Linked DNA regions of Homo sapiens: region 1 is reported to be linked to region 2. The links are microRNA targets in miRTarBase. Many come from high-throughput screens and were not tested one by one. Region 2 holds a microRNA gene; the other region holds the end of a gene's coding sequence.
Evidence for each region. Region 2 holds the annotated microRNA hsa-miR-18a-3p (ACUGCCCUAAGUGCUCCUUCUGG, at 3,302-3,324, shown strand). A microRNA usually pairs through its seed, bases 2 to 8, with sites in the 3' UTR of a target mRNA and lowers its output. Matches are read on the target gene's strand: a 7mer-m8 pairs with bases 2 to 8, a 7mer-A1 pairs with bases 2 to 7 and ends in A, and an 8mer does both.

Region 1: the mRNA of UBN1 is a reported target of hsa-miR-18a-3p. Seed matches in the 3' UTR shown: 7mer-A1 at 2,947-2,953.

What each region holds. Positions count from the first base shown.
Region 1 is chr16:4,879,212-4,886,317 of GRCh38, forward strand. It overlaps UBN1 (ubinuclein 1), which reads left to right. Exons shown (of 18, transcript NM_001079514.3): 18 at 872-3,190. The coding sequence ends at 921. PPL (periplakin) reads right to left here. Exons shown (of 22, transcript NM_002705.5): 22 at 3,296-6,836. The coding sequence ends at 4,173. Among named protein-coding and RNA genes, the nearest start is that of UBN1, 35 kb to the left of the region's middle. RefSeq lists a silencer at 4,964-5,164 and an enhancer at 5,923-6,423.
Region 2 is chr13:91,347,496-91,354,615 of GRCh38, forward strand. It overlaps MIR18A (microRNA 18a), which reads left to right and starts at 3,256; the gene lies at 3,256-3,326. It overlaps MIR17HG (miR-17-92a-1 cluster host gene), which reads left to right and starts at 192. Exons shown (of 3, transcript NR_197388.1): 1 at 192-464; 2 at 2,203-2,275; 3 at 2,661-7,082. MIR17 (microRNA 17) reads left to right here and starts at 3,110; the gene lies at 3,110-3,193. It overlaps MIR19A (microRNA 19a), which reads left to right and starts at 3,396; the gene lies at 3,396-3,477. It also overlaps MIR20A, MIR19B1 and MIR92A1. RefSeq lists silencers at 1-640, 691-1,680 and enhancers at 1,230-1,777, 1,778-2,325.

The DNA of each region.
Region 1 (7,106 bases), not on the chromosome of region 2:
CTCTAACGTGACACTACACATTTTAGATGTTGAAACATCACTATGTACCCCATAAAATATGTGTCATTATTATGAGTCAGTTTTTAAAACTGTTTAAGGCTCTCAGAGGCTGGATGTGGTGGCATTGAGAGGCAGGAGGATTGCTTGAACCCAGGAATCAGAGGGTATAGTGTGCTGTGATCATGCTTGTGAATAGCTGCTGTACTCCAGCCTGGGCAACATAGTGAGACCTCATCTCTAAAAAAATTTTTTTTAATCAGTTTAAAAGTTCGAGGAAAAAGAAAATCAATCAGAAAAGCAACTATACCAAAACAGGGTTATCCAAGTGAGCTTCTCTCACTTCCTTAGATGGACTTCAGCTTATAGGATGACACGAGATGCGAGTAAGAAGCTATTTGCGCATTTCAGCTGCGTGACTTGTGTCTGCGTTGCTTTCCTTTCTTTCTTCTGTGGACTGAGAATGCTAGTGCCTTTGAATTTGTCTTTACAGGACCTGAGGGTCTTTTGATGGTAAGAGAATGAATGATCATTGCTGCCTTGAGTTCTGTGTGATCGTCAGGCCTCGCCTCAGGATGGCAATTGTAGCCTGAGATGACGTAGCCCAAGTTGCACAGCAGAGTTGCTGTTCTGGAAACACTGTGCTGAGTGACCACCGACCTTCACAGTGCTAGTGTGCTTGCAGGCTGTGGCCAGGAGTAGTGTACACGAATAACTGCTGGCTGGTGTCTCATGGCTTGTTTGAGCTCTAGAACACTCAGCATTTGGGGACTTTTGCTATTTAGGTGTCTCCCTTGAAGTTTGGTTACTACTGCCTTAAGGAAATCAGAGAGCATGAAAAACTTGCGTTCTAATTTTTCTTACTCTTTTCCAGGTGCTTCTCAGCTTCACGGGAAAGGGCCTGCTGTACCACGGAAATTGTGACCGCTTCAGAGGCAAGGCTTGCCACTTGGGTCTGGGTGGAATCAGAACGTGCAGGTCTCCCAGGATGTACACTCACTGCGCCCTTTCTGCTGCTTGGTGTTCTTCTGGAGGAGCGTGAGTTCTCAGCGGAGCGCTTCTCGGCACTTCTGATGTGCCTCCCATGGAGGGAGCCGGGCCCTTGCTGCTCAGGAGGTGCAGACTGCCCCGTGCTCTGGGCCTTGCAGCTCTGTCGCTAGACGGTTGTTAGAGGGGCAGCTCTAGGCTGGGGCTTGCGCTGGGCCGTGGTGGGAGGCACAGTGTTTACAGGCTCTGGTGGCAGAGCAGTTGGCACACCTGTGGGTGAATCTGCCTGATCCCCTGGCATTTGGTCAGAGTACCTCAGAGCACCCCACTGCTCAGGGGCTCCTTCTGGCTGCAGTAAGCTCCCTGGATGGTCACAGTGCCGCCCCATCCCCAGGCTGTGTGCTCAAAGCGGACAAAACTCAGGCCAGAGCCACAGCTGGGAGACCTGCACTGTCCCTGCGAAATACTAAGAACACCTAGGGTGTGCTCACTGTGGGGGCCAGTTTCTCCTCGGAACATGACAATGAAGCTCTTTTAGAGAAAAGACCTTTGTAGATTCAACAATTATGATAGGATTTTTACAGACACCTATTTTGGGCTCAGTTTTCATCATTACCATTAAATGCATTGGATAGAAGGGGACTGTTCTTCACACATCATATTATAGGAAGACATAATTCCAGTGCCTTTATGGTGGAGCAGAATTCGACAACACATGTCCATTCAGCCCTCTGAATGGATCTGAGACGAAGACCTTTTTAAAGATATGTCTGTATTGAAGAGAAAGCCAGTTTTGAGTTTTTTACACTTGCACATCATTATCTGTGCCGTCCTGACTAGAAGGTTGTCTGGGCCCCCAAATTCCAAGTCCCAGTATAGCCAGGGCTCCCATTTTGTTTTTCCAGAGTTCGTGGAGGTGGACTGCAGAGCCCAGAGCCCTTCATCTCTCTGAGGGTCAAGGATACCAGGGGTCCCAAGTCACAGATAGACATTCCAGTTTGTATTCTTAGGAATCATTCTTAGGCAGTGCGGCAGAAGCAGGCCTCTGTGAAGTGTCTGCCGGGTAGAAATAGGCCTTGAAGTCCTGGGGCTCTCCAGGCAGTGGGGTTATGTGTCGACTGAAGGGTGATGTGCAGAAGAGCTTGGAGAGTGGATCAGAGAGACTAGGACAGTTACTGCAGAGCTCCTAAGTCACCACTCAACCAGTGGCTGTTTCACAAGGATTTGAGGGCACTTGCCTGTCTTGTGAGGTCTGTGCCACAAGGTGAGTCTGAACTGACTGCTCCAGCTAAGTGATCAGGCACGTTGAGAGTATACGGTGTCCTCAGCACATACACCTGTGGGAAAACGGACCGCTCTTGGCTCCTGACTCCCAGGGTACAGCGCCCAGTAACTCATCCTTCATTCAGAGGTTTGCTGGCCTTCCCGGTTTCCCAAGGAGCAAGACCTCTGTCCGCCCTTTGGCCCGGCCTCTGCTCTGTCTCCTTTTTTTACATAAGAACCAATCCGTGTTTCACATTGGGCTAAGTGGATTCCTTATCCCTTTGTTATATATATTTTTTGCAACTTGGATTTCCAGTTTGTTTACAGAGTAGTCTTAGGTAGTAGCAAAAGAGCCAAAGAAGAGATTTGTATTGCTGAGCTCAAAGCCAAGCAGAGGCCGGCAGTGGAGGCTGAGCAGGGACTCTCCAGGCTTCTCTGCCCATAAACACCCGGGTCCCAGGCCCTCCTTCCTTTCCCTTTGGTGCTCCCTCCTCCCCACGTACCATTGCGCGTGCAGCTGGAGCAGAATACCCTCATTTTTAGGAATCTAGTGATGCCTCTTGCCTCAGGGAAACGTTTCTTTGATGGGGAGTTTGAGATTTCTTTTCCTTGTTTATGCTTTATTTGTGGTAATGAAAGAGCGAATGACTGAACAGCCATGGCAAGGCAGACCTACAGGCGAGGCCGCAGCAGAGGGTGGGGCAGAGCAGCCTCGGGGTCTGGGGGCTGCAGGGGTTTCCCTGGCGCAGCGAAAGTCTCTGAGCACTTACCGGGCGTGACCGTTTCTTAGGTGTGAGAGGGGCTGTGGCTTTTGTGCAGCGACTATGTTGGTGTTAGGGGTGGTGTGGAGATTGTTAATCTTGTATAAAGCAATTCAATAAATTGTTTCAAGGTTTCCAAAACATTTTTTCTCACTCTTTTCTTTCTACCATGTGGAAGTAAGTAGTTCTTCCTGTAGGAGCTGTTACAGATGGAATATCCATTTTGGCTGAAAGCCAAGGGGGGGGGGCGGGGGAGTAAGCCTTGCATGCAAAAGAAGAAACATGTGGACCGTACAAGCAGACTCCAGCCACCAGGTTTATTTTCATGCTATAAATAAATTTCCCTATTAGTTCCCATTTTCTTATGTTCTACATGAGATACAGAGACCCAGATATTGGCGTGGTGAATAATCAACTGTTTTGTATACCTAAATACCAGTGAGATAATAAGCGAGACTTGTAAAGCACTGAAACTAAGGCTAACAGCAGCACAATCCACTATCAAAGGATTTAAATGCCAGAACTGTGAAACATTCTCTGTAGGTGCCGGGACAGTCTGGTGGCTGACAATTAACGTCCACTCCAGCACCGAGGGCTGGACACTTGTGGTTTCTGTTCACCTTTCCTGGCTTGGAGCCCAGATCTGTCTCATGAGCAGAGTAACTACTGAGGAGGCTTCTCGGATGGAAAGTTGGTTTTAAGCCAGAAATCTGGAGAGATGTCATGCCAGGCAGCAGCCCCCACGGGCCCAGGCCTTTGTGGGGCAGTGTCACTGTCTGGTGTGCCACCAGTACCCATGCTGCAAGGAGTGGGCTTGGCTGCTGTGGTTGGCTTGTCCTTCAGTGGTTTTCAGATTGTGTGCAGTTATCATGAGGAGTTTGTTGCTGGGAGTGTACAGGAAAAGGGAGGAAAAGGCATCGCAGTTGTCCAGTCATTGGAGGATGAAGTACGTCACTCAGGGTGAATGATGGTTGGGACGAGAGTTGCCTGTCTTCAGCCAGTGCCTGTCTCATATGTGGGCGGGACTCTGAGCAGCCTGGCAGCGAGGGTATGTATAAAATGCTTGGCCTGCACCAGGGCAAGGGAGAGGACGACACCAAGGAGGTCACTGCGTCGTAGGAGAGGGCCAGCGTCTGCCGTTACGAAGAGTTGCAAGAGCTGTGCCTACTTCTGCCCAGATACCAAGACCGCCAGCTCCTGGATGGACATATCCTTGTTGACATAGCGGTCATACTGAGCAGGGGTCAGCCTGCCACTCTGCAGGGCCTCTTCGATGGAGAACTTCTTGCCAGACTTCCTGTCGTGTATCACTGAGGACTCCCCATTGGGACCCTTCACTGAGATCTCCTCCCAGTCGCACTCCTGGCTTCTGAGTTTCACGAACATGTTCCAGTCAATGAGCCCGGCACGGTGGGCTTCCTCCGGGGACAGCTCGCGGCCTGTGTCAGGGTGGATGACTACGATGGAGCGCCGCAGGTGGTTCTCCCGCTGCTCCCGCTTGACGGCCACGGAGCCCAGGCGCTTCTGCAGCTCGTCGATCTCGAGGTCTTTGTCCTTGGAGAGCCTCTTGAGGTCATCCAGTTCCCTCTCCAGGGACCACAGTCTGGAGTCATGGTTGGTCCCAGAGTCCGCCACGGTCATGTTCCGCAGGTCTCGTGTTTCCGTCGCTGCCATGTTGATTTCCGATTGGAGCCTTCGGGTCTCCAGCTGCAGGTTTTGCCTCTCCAGCTGTAATTTGTGGTTCTCTTCCCTCAGAAAGTCTAGTTCCTTGGATGACTTGGAGTTATGGAATTCCAGCTCCGAAAGCCTGGCTTCCAGCCGGCTCACCTCGACGTCCAGCTCGCGCTTGCTGCGGCTCTCCTCCTCCAGGCTGCTCTTGAGCCTCTGGATCTCTTGCTCGGTGTCGCCCTTCTCCACCTGGACACTCTCGGAGAGCACCACCTTCTCCTTGACCTCCGCCTTCTCCAGTGCAGCCAGTTTCCTCCGGAGGGTCTCGAGCTCCCCCTCCAGGAGCTGCCGCCGGTGCTGCTCTTCTTCCAGCTGGAGTCGGAGCAGGGCATGCTCTCGCGCCTGCTGCGGGTCCTGCTGCAGCACCACCTTCTGCGTATGGGTTACCTTCTCACGGGCCTCAGCTTCTTCCTGCTCCAGCGCTGCCAGCCGCTGCTGCAACCGCTGTACCTCGCGCTCGGCCTCCCTGCGGGCCTGCCGCTCGCGCTCTAGCTCCTCCAGCTGCCGCTCAAGCTCGGTGCGCCGGCGCTGCAGCCGCCGCAGCTCTGCCCGCAGCTTGTCAATCTGCCGCAGCTCCACATCGATGCTCTCGGCAAAGGCGCTCGCCTCGGCCCGCAGGCCTGGCTCCTCCTCATACCTGACCACCTCCTGCTGCACCACCCTTTCCTTCACCCGCGAGAGCTCCTCCTCTTTCCGGGCGATCTGCTCTTCCTGGGAAGCTCTTTCCCTCTCCAGATCCACTTGTTTCTTCTGCTCCTCTGAGAGCTTTGCCCTCAGAGACGCCACCTCCTCCTTGGTTTGAGGGTCTTCTTGGAATTGGAGGATCTCCTGGACCACCTCTTTGGTCTGGACCTGGGGTTTGGTGTCTTTCAGGGCCTGGATTTCCTTTTTCAGCTGGTAGATCTCTAAATCACACCTTTCGATCAGTCTGGTCTTGTCCACGATCTCCTCCCTGAGCCGCTGAAGCTCCTTCTCCATCTCAGGGTCAGTCTTGTACTTAATGACTTCCTTAGTCACCTCTTTGACTTCCACCTGGGGGCCTCGCCTCCTGAGGGCCTCCAGCTCACTCTGGTAGCTCCGGAGCTGCTCCTCGGCACCCCGGTACTTTCGCTCCTGCTCCACAAGCTCCAGGCGGAGGTTCGCCACTTCACTTTCCGCCTTGGGGTCTGGCCGCACGATCTCCCGCACCTTCTCCTGCACCACCACTTTGGCGTTCTCCTCCTCCAAGGCCCATATCTTTCGGAGCAGCTCCGTCTTCTCCCTCTGGCTAGCGCGAGCCTTGGCAGCCTCGTCCTCATATTGGCGGGTGAGATCGCTGACCTCCCTCTCGGTGGCCGCGTCCTTCTCCACCTTGAGCACCTCCTTGACGGTGATCTTGCCCTCGGCCATGGCCCGCTCCTTCTCTAGCCTCTTGAGCTTGTCCTGGAGGAAGCTCAGCTCCTCCTCCTGCTTCTCCCTGAGCTGGTCCTGGCGCTGGTGGTCCTCCTGCAGCTGCTGGTACTCTGCCTCCAGCTGGGGGTCATTCTGCAGTTTCACCACCTCTTTCTCTGTGACCTTCTCCTGCGCCCGGCTCTTCTCTTCAGCCAGGGCGGCCACACGCTGCTGCAGGAGGAGCACCTCTGCCTCCCGGGCGCCCTTCTGCCGCCTCAGTGCCTCCAGCTCCTCCCGCAGCTGCAAGACCTCATCCGCCTGGGCCCTGTCAGGCTCGATGCGCAGGACCTCCTTGACCACGTACTCCTGCCCCCCGTCTCTGGTCTCCTGCTCCAGGGCACGCAGCTGCAGCTGCAGTGCCTCCAGCTCCTCCTGCAGCAGCTGGTTCTTGTGCTGCTCCTCTGCCAGCGTCCGCTGCAGCTGCTGGAAGCTCTCCTCCAGCACGGGATCCGGCACCTTCTTGAGCACCTCCTTCCTCACCACCGATTCCTGAGGCCCCTGATTCCTCAAGGTCCAGATTTCTTCCTGGGTGCTCTTGACCTCGTTCTCCAGCTGCCGCCTCCGCTCAGTCTCCTCATCCAGTTCCTTCCTGATCTTCCACGCCTCCTCCACTCCAGAGTCCGGCCTATTCCTTTGCAGGGTCTCATGGGTCACTTCTACTTCCGGCTGCTGTGATGGAGAAGACAAGACAAGGTTAAAGCCAGGCTCTGGCAGCACATGTAGGGCCTGTCCCCACCTGGTCAGAGTGGCTGTCCTGTGGTCCCCAAGGGACTCCCTCAGTGCCAGTTCATGTTAGTTGTAGAGTTCTAGGGTTACTTTCAAAAAGGATCAAACAACTAGTTTGGGGTTTTTTTTAATCAGGTAAAACATTTTTGAGCTGTGGAAGAGTTTAAAATGAAACCACGGTCTCCCACCTCTGGTCCCCGTCCTAGGGCGTGT
Region 2 (7,120 bases):
CCGGGGAAGGCTGCGCGGCGCCGCCAGCGGCTCCCGGCTCCCGCTCTCCCGGCCGCCAAGAACGAGCCGCCGTGGGCGGGGCCTGCGGTGATTGGCGGGCGGGCGGGGAGGTCGGAAGTACTTTGTTTTTTATGCTAATGAGGGAGTGGGGCTTGTCCGTATTTACGTTGAGGCGGGAGCCGCCGCCCTTCATTCACCCACATGGTCCTTCGAGGTGCCGCCGCCGCCGCCCGACCTGCGCCTTCGCGCCACTTCGCGCCCTCGGGCGAGGCCGAGGGGGTGGGGACGACTACCGCAGCGCCGCCGGGGCTCGCGCTCCTCCGCGAAGCTCTCCTCGCGGGGCGGGCCGGCCGGCCGCACCCCCGGCCTGGGGCCTCCGGTCGTAGTAAAGCGCAGGCGGGCGGGGAGGCGGGAGCAGGAGCCCGCGGCCGGCCAGCCGAAGATGGTGGCGGCTACTCCTCCTGGTGAGTCTGCCCGCCCCTCCGGCGACGGAGGGAAACCTGTTGTGTGCGGCCCGGGTCTGGCGGGCGGGGCGGAGCGGCCCGGGGCGGACTGGCCCGGGGCAGCGTGGCGGCGGCGGCGTGGCCGGGGCGGGTCTCGGCCGTTGGCCGCCCCGGCGTGTGGCAGCCGCATCTGGCTGCCCCCTCGCTCGCCCGCGGGCCGGCGGAGGGGGGCAGGGCCGGGGCGGGAGGGTGGGAGGGGGCGGCGTGCGCGTGGCGGCCGCGCCCGGGACCCGCGCAGACCCTGCCTGGGCCGACCCGAAGGCGGGTGGGCGGACGGCGAACACAATGGCCCCTCGGGGAGAGGACGTGCGAGGCCCGTGCCTTCTCCGGGGCCCGGGGCGCGCGCGGGGCGTGGGGTCTCTGGGTAGGAAAGTTTCTCCCGAGGGCGAGAGTTAAAGCGCCTCCAGAACAAAGCGGCGGCGGCGGCGGCACATGGGGCAGGCCGCGGGCCGGGAGGGGGCGCGCCCACGAGGTACCTGCGCGCCAGCGGGCGGCGTGGCGTGGGCGGGAGCCCGCGGTTCCCCAAACTTTGTACGCGCGAGGGTGGGCGGAGGGGCGCCGAGATCGGCGCGGCCTGGGCGCCACCCCCGCTCCGCGTGGGCTTTGTTAGCCCGCGTGGGCAGCCTCGGGGCGGGGCCCGCAACTTCCCCGCCGTGGCCCTCGGAGGAGGCCGCAGTCGGCCTCAGCCGCGGCGTGGAGCCGCCTGCGCCCGGCCGCTTGCTGGGAGTGTGGCGCGGGAGGGCCAGCCCGGCTCGGCGGGAGCGGCGTCCCCGCCGCCATGTTCCTGCGGGGCGGGCTGCACGGGGGTGAGGGCGGGGGACATGGCGGCGACTGCGCGCCGCCGCCGATTGTTCCCGGCTTAGGCCTCGGGCCGCGTGCGACGGGCACCGCGGCCGCGGAGCCCCCGCCCCTCTGGGCCGGGCTCGGGGGGGCTGGGGGACACAAAGGAGGGGCGGCGCGCCCGCGTCCCCGCCGCACTCGGGCCTCGGCGCCGCCGGTCGCCGCGCGGCTGCCGCCGGGAAACGGGTTGGGGGGGTTGCCGCGTCCGGCGGGGCCTGACTCTGACCCGCCGCCCCCTGGCGGCTACGCGGAGAATCGCAGGGCCGCGCTCCCCCTTGTGCGACATGTGCTGCCGGCCCGGGCTCCATGAGCGTGGCGGGCACTTTGCAGTCTCGGGTGTTCCTGCCCGGTCTTCTGTTCCTAAACTGCAGCAAAGGGAAAAGGAACTGAAAAAGGCAGGCTCGTCGTTGCAATATCACCAAAAGAGAAAATTAACGGCATGCCATCAGGACCACAGCAGTTGGAGAAACAACTCTTTATCCCGGCTTGCAGCCACGAGGTCTTGATTGGGGGAGGGGTGGTGAAGAATAGTCTGTGGGCTGCTTTTTTTTTTTCCTTTTACTGGAGCTGTACAGTGGAGTCGGTGATTGCTGCTGATCATAATCAAGTATTTTAGGAGCTTATTTAGACATGTATCTGATAGCTAAGGATTTTTCAACTTTATTCTCTTACGTATTTTTCAACTGTAAATTATTGGGCTTTTAAATCCTGCTAGTATTGCTCGACTCTTACTCTCACAAATGGATGGAATTAATTGCTGTTAGGAGGTTGGAAAATAGCAAATATAGATTTGGACGGTGGTAGTAATTTTGAGCAAATAATGTTTTATCTTTTTTTTCCTTATTTTTCCCTATTCCAGTCATACACGTGGACCTAACTGCACCAGTAGCTTTTCTGAGAATACTTGCTGAAAAGGAAGTTTTCTGGAATGGGTAAGTGTATTCTGATTTTCTTGAACTTTTCTTAAAAACAAATTTTTCTTGCTATTAAAGTTGAATAAATAGGATTGGTTTCTTAGAGAGTAAAAGTAGGTGTTTCTTTCTTTAGACAATGTACCTTTTCTGAAAAACTAACTCATTAAGTACGGATTTGCTAATTTTAAGGTAGTAAAATTACAGTGTAAATATTCCTGTACATTTTTGGAAACTGGCTTATGCAGTTTACGAAATATAATTTTAGACCCTCTTTTAAGTTGGGTGATAAAGTAGATATAACCTGAGATGATAGATTTAAACAGGATATTTACGTTCTGCTACAATTGACTGATAACACTTGAAGTGTAGTCTGAACAGTAATTTTGTTAATCATTTCAACAAGTATTTGCTAAGTGGAAGCCAGAAGAGGAGGAAAATGTTTTGCCACGTGGATGTGAAGATTTCCTCTAAAAGGTACACATGGACTAAATTGCCTTTAAATGTTCCAAAATTAGTTCTCATTTATTTGCAGTCTCATTTTGTTTTGTTTTTTTTCTCTATGTGTCAATCCATTTGGGAGAGGCCAGCCATTGGAAGAGCCACCACTTCCAGTGCTAGTTGGATGGTTGGTTATGATTGCCTTCTGTAAAGAATTCTTAAGGCATAAATACGTGTCTAAATGGACCTCATATCTTTGAGATAATTAAACTAATTTTTTCTTCCCCATTAGGGATTATGCTGAATTTGTATGGTTTATAGTTGTTAGAGTTTGAGGTGTTAATTCTAATTATCTATTTCAAATTTAGCAGGAAAAAAGAGAACATCACCTTGTAAAACTGAAGATTGTGACCAGTCAGAATAATGTCAAAGTGCTTACAGTGCAGGTAGTGATATGTGCATCTACTGCAGTGAAGGCACTTGTAGCATTATGGTGACAGCTGCCTCGGGAAGCCAAGTTGGGCTTTAAAGTGCAGGGCCTGCTGATGTTGAGTGCTTTTTGTTCTAAGGTGCATCTAGTGCAGATAGTGAAGTAGATTAGCATCTACTGCCCTAAGTGCTCCTTCTGGCATAAGAAGTTATGTATTCATCCAATAATTCAAGCCAAGCAAGTATATAGGTGTTTTAATAGTTTTTGTTTGCAGTCCTCTGTTAGTTTTGCATAGTTGCACTACAAGAAGAATGTAGTTGTGCAAATCTATGCAAAACTGATGGTGGCCTGCTATTTCCTTCAAATGAATGATTTTTACTAATTTTGTGTACTTTTATTGTGTCGATGTAGAATCTGCCTGGTCTATCTGATGTGACAGCTTCTGTAGCACTAAAGTGCTTATAGTGCAGGTAGTGTTTAGTTATCTACTGCATTATGAGCACTTAAAGTACTGCTAGCTGTAGAACTCCAGCTTCGGCCTGTCGCCCAATCAAACTGTCCTGTTACTGAACACTGTTCTATGGTTAGTTTTGCAGGTTTGCATCCAGCTGTGTGATATTCTGCTGTGCAAATCCATGCAAAACTGACTGTGGTAGTGAAAAGTCTGTAGAAAAGTAAGGGAAACTCAAACCCCTTTCTACACAGGTTGGGATCGGTTGCAATGCTGTGTTTCTGTATGGTATTGCACTTGTCCCGGCCTGTTGAGTTTGGTGGGGATTGTGACCAGAAGATTTTGAAAATTAAATATTACTGAAGATTTCGACTTCCACTGTTAAATGTACAAGATACATGAAATATTAAAGAAAATGTGTAACTTTTTGTGTAAATACATCTTGTCTTGTTTTCATTCAAAAACATTTCACTTTTGGGGTTGCGTGTCAGATTTGGCAGTATAAATTCTGGCTATATTTTTTGTTGTTAGATTTATTTGGCTGTTAAGTATTGCGATATGACTAAACATACTGTATACCTGATGATCATCTGTAAAGTTAGAGTATATCTTTTTGCTTTCTTTGGAGTTAGTGTTATTCCAGGATATTTTACTTAATCTAAAAGTTAATTTATGTTGCTCATATATTACTCAAGTATTTAAATTTAGAGAGAATGCCGCTCTGTTTAAAGCAATGTGTAAAGATGAGTTTTTTTAAGCATGGAATTTAGGGTTGGGGTACAATTTGTTTCTATTAAGCAAGTACCAGTTTACCAATACATGAGTAACTGAAGTGTAACTGTTAAATGCTTGTATACTAGTTTTTCTTTCTGATTGTCAGTGATTTATAAGCTATAAATGACCAAGGTCCTCAGACTGCTTTTAGCATCTGCAACTTAAAAAAATGGGAGTTAGAAAAAGAACAAATGCTAAATAGAGTAACAGTTAAATGTATGTGTACACTCTTCCCAAATGCCAAGAGTGCAGCGGTGGGGTGAGATTCAGATATTCATTTATTTCTAAGTCTGTAGTTAACATTTATGTTCCCTACTCCCTACGTAAGCCAGACTTTGGCAACAGTGATAGTTGATTCCAGGCTTATTTGACTTAAAGTCACTGAAGTGGAAACTAAGAAGTGGCAGTTAGTGTTTTACCCAGCATTTCTGCCTTCTCTCTTTTCTTCATGTGTTTTTGTCTCTAGCCTATGTGTATTTGTGTAGAATAATGTGGGATACCTGAATAATAGATTTAAAAGGACCAAGTGGTAAAATTGGGCCCAAGCTGAAGTACAGGCAAACTTGATGTTTGAAAGATAAGTTTTGAGAAATGTCATTGTATTTTGGAGTAAAAGAGGCTATCTTAGTAATAAGAAATAAACTTCCATAACACTAGGTTAGACCACCCAATAAATCTAGAAATCAGCTTTTAAAAATATTGTCTGAAGTCTAACAAAAGTTTTCACCTCTAATGTGTTCTTTAAGAAATTTAAGGAACTTAGCCTTGGATTCCTGAATAGAAAGGTAAGAATTCTATCATTCTGGAGTTGATGAAAACATAAATTTTCAGGATGTGAAATGAACAGTGATTTATAAAATGGAAATCAAATTGTACATTAGCAGAGTTCTTAAGCTTTTTGAATTGAAGGAGACCTAATAATTGTGTCTTTTTGGTTATTTAGTGACAAACGTGGCTTTCAAACTATGCTTAAAAAGTTCCGGCTGGACACGGTGGCTCACACCTATAATCCTAGCACTTGGGGAGGCTGAGGCAGACGGATTACCTGAGGTCAGGAGTTCGAGACCAACCTGGCCGACATGGTGAAACGCTGTCTCTACTAAAAATATAAAAAATTAGCCGGGTGCAGTGGCGTGCACCTGTAATCCCAGCTACTCTGGAGGCTGAGGCAGGAGAATCACCTGAACCTGGGAGGTGGAGGTTTCAGTGAGCTGAGATCCTGCCACTGCACTCCAGCCTGGGCGCAAGACCAAGACTTAAACGCAAAAAAAAAAAAAAAAAAAAAAAAAAAGTTTCATAATACAGCATGGTCTGGTAGTTTGCAAAATGGTGTGCTTTTGGGGAGATACACTAGCAATTTTTTTAAAAACTGGAACAGTGTGATAGGAAGCCTGCTGGATGATTTCTTAAATATTCTAAAATGTAAGTCAAATATGTTTTAATAACAAAGACTTAAATGGCTTTTCTCCCTAGAGACTGAAACTAGTATTCATTGTGTTCAGAACTTAATTGGGCTTGAACTGAGATTTAAATCTAATAAACAAGTTAATAAATGTGTATGTTTTGTTGTGGGTTTGGTAGTGATCTGTGGTTCTATAGGGTTTAATAGGAATTGCTTTTGATTTGTTTCTGGCTTTAGAATGTGAGGCAAATTTTACATTCTTGGTTCTATTAAGATTTTCTTAGGCATGCTAACATGCCAACAAAAAGCCATGTAAGTATTGTATAAAAAGATTCACATTGTTAATTTAGCCATTTTGAAATTCAGATGAGTGAGCAAGTTGATAATGGCCTCATCTCTGACCTGAGAAAAAACAACTTTGACCCTTGTTCTTAAAATGCTTTAACCTTGAAGTTGCTTGAGACTTAAGAGGTCATGTTGCTTTAGGTTTAATAAATAGCCTTAACTATTTGGAGGGGAAAAAATGGGTCAACTTTTTTTTTTTTTTTTGGCGTTTGCATGTACAACTTTCTATTTTTAGCCTATATTTGGAAAGAAAGCACTTAACATTTTAGGAATTCTTTTTAAAGCTGCTTGCAAAGTGTTGGTGATTTTACTGAAAACTTTTGAGATCTTCATTTTACAGGCAGACCTGTCTAACTACAAGCCAGACTTGGGTTTTCTCCTGTAGTTTGAAGACACACTGACTCCTGACAAAATGCAGCCTGCAACTTCCTGGAGAACAACTCAGTGTCACATTAAAGTTTATTATGTATTTAATGATACACTGTTTAATTGACAGTTTTGCATAGTTTGTCTAACTTTAGAGAATTAAGAGCCTCTCAACTGAGCAGTAAAGGTAAGGAGAGCTCAATCTGCACAGAGCCAGTTTTTAGTGTTTGATGGAAATAAGATCATCATGCCCACTTGAGACTTCAGATTATTCTTTAGCTTAGTGGTTGTATGAGTTACATCTTATTAAAGTCGAAATTAATGTAGTTTTCTGCCTTGATAACATTTCATATGTGGTATTAGTTTTAAAGGGTCATTAGGAAAATGCACATATTCCATGAATTTTAAGACCCATAGAAAAGTTGAAGAATGCTTAATTTTCTTATCCAGTAATGTAAACACAGAGACAGAACATTGAGATGTGCCTAGTTCTGTATTTACAGTTTGGTCTGGCTGTTTGAGTTCTAGCGCATTTAATGTTAATAAATAAAATACTGCATTTTAAAGCTGTTAAGAAATTGTCCAGAACGAGAATATTGAAATAAAAACTTCAAGGTTATTATCGCAGTTTTTATGGCGTTTTTGTTTTGTCACTAC